Linked DNA regions of Homo sapiens: region 2 is linked to region 1. Evidence: fine-mapped expression QTL. A gene starts in region 1. The other region holds a variant in brackets. All regions are shown on one strand. Distances are from middle to middle.

The links. PIP is the estimated chance that this variant, and not a neighbour inherited with it, causes the effect. A credible set is the group of variants that fine-mapping cannot tell apart.
Region 2: its variant is the best candidate, but not a certain one, in a credible set for the expression of ZBTB45 in whole blood (TOPMed, PIP 0.53).

The regions. Positions count from the first base shown.
Region 1 is chr19:58,518,338-58,521,242 of GRCh38, reverse strand. It overlaps ZBTB45 (zinc finger and BTB domain containing 45), which reads left to right and starts at 1,433. Exons shown (of 3, transcript NM_001316979.2): 1 at 1,433-1,501. RefSeq lists enhancers at 1,149-1,468, 2,526-2,905 and a silencer at 1,559-1,658.
Region 2 is chr19:58,567,147-58,570,051 of GRCh38, reverse strand. MZF1 (myeloid zinc finger 1) reads left to right here. Exons shown (of 6, transcript NM_198055.2): 4 at 466-536; 5 at 655-775. MZF1-AS1 (MZF1 antisense RNA 1) reads right to left here. Exons shown (of 6, transcript NR_027334.2): 2 at 1,057-1,139. Among named protein-coding and RNA genes, the nearest start is that of MZF1, 4.7 kb to the left of the region's middle. The variant C/T (reference allele first, on the strand shown) is at 1,486.

The sequences.
Region 1 (2,905 bases):
GGCGCCTGCCACCGCGCTCGGCTAATTTTTTTTTGTATTTTTAGTAGAGACGGGGTTTCACCGTGTTAGCCAGGATGGTCTCGATCTCCTGACCTCATGATCCGCCCGCCTCGGCCTCCCACAGTGCTGGGATTACAGGCGTGAGCCACCGCGCCCGGCCTTTTTTTTTTTTTTTTTTTTTTTTTTTTTTTGAGACGGAGTCTCGTTCTGTCGCCCAGGCTGGAGTGCAGTGGCGCGATCTCAGCTCACTTCAAGCTCCGCCTCCCGGGTTCATGCCAGTCTCCTGCCTCAGTCTCCCGAGTAGCTGGGACTACAGGCGCCTGCCACCACGCCCAGCTAATTTTCTGTATTTTTAGTAGAGATGGGGTTTCACTGTGTTAGTCAGGATGGTCTCGATCTCCTGACGTGATCCACCCGCCTTGGCCTCCCAAAGTGCTGGGATTACAGGCATGAGCCACTGCGCCGGGCCATGAGGTCTGTTTTCTTGCTGGCTGTTGTTGCAGCTCTTCTCAGATTCTCAGCATGACACCTGTCCTGTTGCATTTCCTCTCATGGACCTCTCTACCTTCAAAGCCTCTGGAACCCTTCTCCTACTTCAAGTTTCTCCACCTTCCTCTTCTGCCTTTAAGGACCCTTATGATACCTTGGACCTACCAAAATAATCCAGAATCATATCCTATTTTAAGATCAGCTAATGAGTAACCTTAATTATTTCCGCAAAAACCCTTTCACCATGTAGTGTAACTATTCATAGGTGAGATAATCATATTTACAGGTTCTGGGGATTTGGGCACGGAAATCTCGGAGGGGGCCATTTTCGGAATTCTGTCCCCCATACCAGATTGACTTGCAATGTCCCAGAATCTCACAGGGTCTAGCTCAGGGGAGGCCCAGAGCAGGGTGAGGCAGTTGTCTATTCCTGTCTGCGTTGTAGTAGAAGGTGCCAAGGCCGAGATGGGGTCCTTTCCCCAGTCCCACCCACAGCGGGCGGGCCTGGAGCGTCTGCAGTAGTGGTAGCTTGCTTGCACCTCCTGGCGGCCAGGGACCGAGACCTACTTCAGCTCTCACCCGTGTCACAGGAATAAGGCCACTTCCCCGGTTCGCAGTGGGGTTTAAACTGGCCAGAACACGTTGGGCACTTGGGCCGGGAACTGCCTTCCCATTCTGCATCACAGGGAGCTTGCGGATTGATCGCGCAGGCCCGCCACACCCCTGATCTCCTGGGCGACGCCGGAAGAGTGCTCTGGTCCAGACATTCCTCGCGACGCGGCAGCCCTAGCCTCTTCGACTTTGGTTCCGACTAAGAGGAGAGCCGGAGTGCAGACTGGCGGGAGCTGATCGCCATAAAAATACCGGAAACGTGCTTCGGCCTAGGGTTTCCCCTGCGCCGCCGCGACCGCAGGCCTCCGTTCCGCCGGGGTAACGGCCCGGAAGTGCGGCCTTGTAGTCGGTCAGGAGGAAGCGGCCACGGCAGAGCCTGGTGCCTGAAGAGGAGTCGGAGGTGGGGTCGAATGGGCATCCCCCTGCCGCAGGGCGGGCGAGGAGGCTGGGGCGTGCCAGGGGAGGGGCACCTGCGCTCCGCTAGAAGCGCACGCTGAGAACGCGAGGGGGCGCTGCAGGACCGGGGTACGGCGGGGGCCAGAGTGCGGGGTGGCAGCGGCGGGTCAGAGGGGTGCTTTGGGCGTAGGGTGGGGCGCGGGCAATGGAGCAGAGTATGGGAGAACGCGCTCGGAGTAAAGCACACGGCGCGGCGAAGGCGTGGCGGGAGTGTGCGGCGCCGGACCCGGGAAGCTGGCCTGGGCGCCGGGTCTCGAGTGCAGGCCTTTGTTCTGAAGTGTCCAGGCCGGCCTTGCGGCGTCGGGACTGAGGAATGGAGCCCGTCGCGGGGCGGGGCGGGAAAGGAAGGTTCAAGTCTCTCGGGTTGATGCGCAAGTTTCCGTCCCCATCGGCCGGACAGATTAGAATCCTTTCAGGTGCTAGGTGAATACAGATGGGGCGGTGCTGCTTGCTGAGTTAGCCTTTGCGCGGGCACAGGCCTGGCTTTTTTGAGGCATTGCACAGAAGGCTCAGAACAGGGCCAGGGAGCGGGGTGGTGTATCCGGATCCGTAGTCTGGAAAAGCTCCCTCTGGCTGCCGTGTGGGGAACAGAAGGGGAGGCGAGGGGCGCAGAGACACCAGCCAGGTTTCTTCATCCGTCCAGGACAGCGGGAACGGGGCAGTGGAGGTGCTCGAAGTGGTCTGAGGGTCAAATGTGGGGCATGCAAAAAAGGGAGGCGTCTGGCTGAGCAAAGGGACGGCGGATTGGGCATAAGGAGTCGGAGGGGTTGAATCTTGAGACCCCAGTAGAGCCCGAGGGTGTAGGGGCAGCATCAAGCCGAGCCCACCCTGGGGCTTTGTGACTCCAAGGGAGAGACAGGCTGGTGGAGCCTATACGGATGTCAGAGTCCAGAGCTCCTACCCTCCTCCCTTAGACTGGAGGTGTGTGCAGTCTGGGTGCGGGATGAGCCGAGTATCTCATCCCTTGTTTGATAGAAGGGGAAACAGGCCGAAGGATCACGGTTTACCTGCTTGATGGATGGAGTAGCAGAACTCCTCAGATTCCAGAGTCCTCTGAGGACTACCCCCTCCCCTTTCTGGTGCCTGATGTTGGGCCGTGTCCCCGATTACTCCATGGGCAGCTATCCAGTCACACACCCCTGCTCAATCCACACTTCCCCTCTCTGTGCCACACCCACACCCTGGGCCCCACAGGCCCCATCGAGATGGCAAGAAGCTGGGGCTGCAGGAGCCACCTCCCTGCTCGCTATGCTAGGGGCTGCCAGGGAGCATGTACTGGTTTCCCTGGGGCATCTCCCAAGGTACTGCCCAACCTTTTACCCTCAGCCCTTAGTGACTAGGCACACCC
Region 2 (2,905 bases), 49 kb before region 1:
AAGGAGATGCGTTAGGCAATATGTGCTTGTCACTGGGGAACAGACAGCAGGCAGAGGTATAATTAGGAGCTGCTGAGGGAGGACCTCGTAGTGTTAGGGGTATGACCCCTTTCACCTCCCAGGCAGGGCACCTGAACTAGCTGCTCACACCCTGCCATTCCTATGTGGACCCTTGTACAATACCTCTGACCCCCGCTGACCACCTTGCCCCATGGTTCACATACGGCTACAGGGGCACAAACCTCAGCCCATCTCATCCCACTGCAGCTCAACCCCTGGCCTTCCAGGGTACTCTGCTTCACCCAGCCCCTGAGCTGGGCCCTCAGCTACCCTGCACTGCCCTCCCCAACCCAAGCCCACAACCAAGAATCCCACCTCTCTGCATCCCAGCACCTGGCACACCACTAAGAAGGGCAGTGGGGTGGAAACTCACTCAGGCTGCCTGATACCAGTTTTCCTCTCTAGATTTCCTGGAGTCTGGGCCTCTAGCTGCCACCCAGGAGTCTGTACCCACCCTCCTGCCTGAGGAGGCCCAGGTAAGTCCTGCCCAGGTCCATGTTCTCCTCCTTTCCCTGGAAGTTGCTGGGTGGGGTCAGGTAGGTCCCTCCCTGAGCCCAGCCAGGCACAGAGGAGCAGTGACCACTGTGATTTCAGAGATGTGGGACCGTGCTGGACCAGATCTTTCCCCACAGCAAGACTGGGCCTGAGGGTCCCTCATGGAGGGAGCACCCCAGGGCCCTGTGGCATGAGGAAGCTGGGGGCATCTTCTCCCCAGGTAAGTGAGATGGGGTGTGGTGGGACTAGGCCTTCCGCATGGACAGCACCATCTCTGCCGACCCCACTCCTGGCCCTACGCAGGCAGCCCTCTTACTCCAGCATCCCCAAGTTCCCCCATTCCCTAGATCATCCCCTATAAGGTTCAACCTCCTCTAGCATCTTCTGCCCTCAAAAAAAGCCACCCACCACTACCACTGATCCCACAGCCCCTCTACTTTCTAGAAACTCCCCACCCTAGTAAAACCTTTTGCAAGCAGGGCGAGTATTCCCCGTACCCACATTCTCTCCCAGTCCTGGTATCCTGGATGGCCTCCTGGGCTTGCATCCTGCTGGTCAGGCATCAGGACAGGTAGGGCTGGGACCTGACAAGGACAGCAGGTTAGTAGACAGAGCAGGTGGGCAGGAGGGACCTTGACACAGGATAGGGATCCTGCCCAATCATCGAAGCATTACGGACCAGAGGCCCCCTGCCATCTACCTCTCAGCCACCACCTTTGTCTGGCATCATCCAGGCTCCTCCTACAACCCATCTTCTGTTATGTTCCTTCCTGTTCCTGAGACCCAGGGTCTCCTCTTTCTTAGTTCACACCTTTGTTTTGGTGGAGCTTTGTGGGTGTTCTGGTGTGGAAGATAAAATTCTGACATGTCCCATATCTGAAACACATTGTCTAGCCCTCAACATTAGATTGAAGTTTGGCTGGAAGAATT[C/T]TTTTTATTAGTACAGTCACAGACCTTTTTTTATCACTATTGTTGGTGAGCTTTTTCAGTTTGAAATTCACATCTCTCAGTTCTGGGAAACTGCCTTGAAATTTTTTTTTATTTCCTTCCCTTCTATTGCTCTGCTCCCTGTTTCTGGGATGCCTCTTACTTGGCTATTGGCATCTGGGATGGGTCCTTTAATGTTCTTATCTTTTCACTCCAATTTTCCATTCCTTTGTCTTTCTACTCTATTTTCCTGGAAATTTTCTCACTTGTATCTTTCAGACCTTCTGTTAAGATTTTCATTTCTGGTAGCTTTTTTTTTGGTGGGGGGAGGGGGTCTCACTATTTCACACAGACTAGAGCACAGTGGTGCCATCATAGCTTACTGTAACCTTGAACTCCTGGGCTCAAGTGATCCTCTCGCCTCAGCCTCCCAAGTATCTGGGACTGCAGGCATGTGTCACTGTACCTGACTCATTTTTAATTTTTTTATTTTTTTGTAGAAACAGGTTCTCACTATGTTGCCAGGGCTGGTCTTAAATTCCTGGCTTCAAGTGATGCTCCCACCTCAGCCTCCCAGAGTGCTGGGATTACAGGCATGAGCTACTTCATCTGGTCTCTTGTAGCATATTTTTACTTTCCAAGAGTGTTTTTATTCTCTGAATGTTCATCTTTTTAGCTGTCTCCTGTTGTTCTTTCATTTACAATGTCTTTCCTTATTTCTCTGAGAACAGCAGTAACTTTTTAAAAAAAAACAGTGTGTTCTCTATTCTCTCCTAGTTGTTGGCTTATATGCAAGAGAGGGGCACCACAAATCTGGCTGACAGCTCTGAGCAGGTAGATGTGGGGCTTACTGGCTGGAAGGGACATAGGGGAACCCCACTCCCCAAGGAGACCCTTTTCTTAGGGTATGTGAGCAAGCAGCTTGAGTATGAGTGGATGCTGCAAACAGATCCATAGGGCAATGTGGCTAGGCCATTTTGGGGGCACTCTTCCTCCAAGCATGTTTCGTTCCATCGTCTGAATCCTGCAAGAAGGTAACTTCAGCCTCCTGCCAGCATCCTTGGGAAAGAGATTAACATCTCAGCATCCAATGGGACTGTTTACCTAATAACCCTGACTTTCTCAGTACGGTTTCTCACCCTTAACATAGCCTTCTGCCAGGATGGGAGAAGAAATCCAGAAGTAAGTCATGGCAGTGCATACTGTTGGCTCAGAATTCTGTGCAGACAGAGCCCACAGCAGCAGCCCTGCCCAGCATCTGCTTCTGAAACAGCCTCTCCAGCCTGGCTGGTGCCCTGCTCATTCACTTGCATGGCCAGAAGTACCAGGTACCTCCAACTCCTGAGTTTTTAGAATCTTCTTAGCCAGGCGCAGCCGCTCATGCCTGTAATCCCAGCACTTTGGGAGGCGGAGGCAGGTGGAT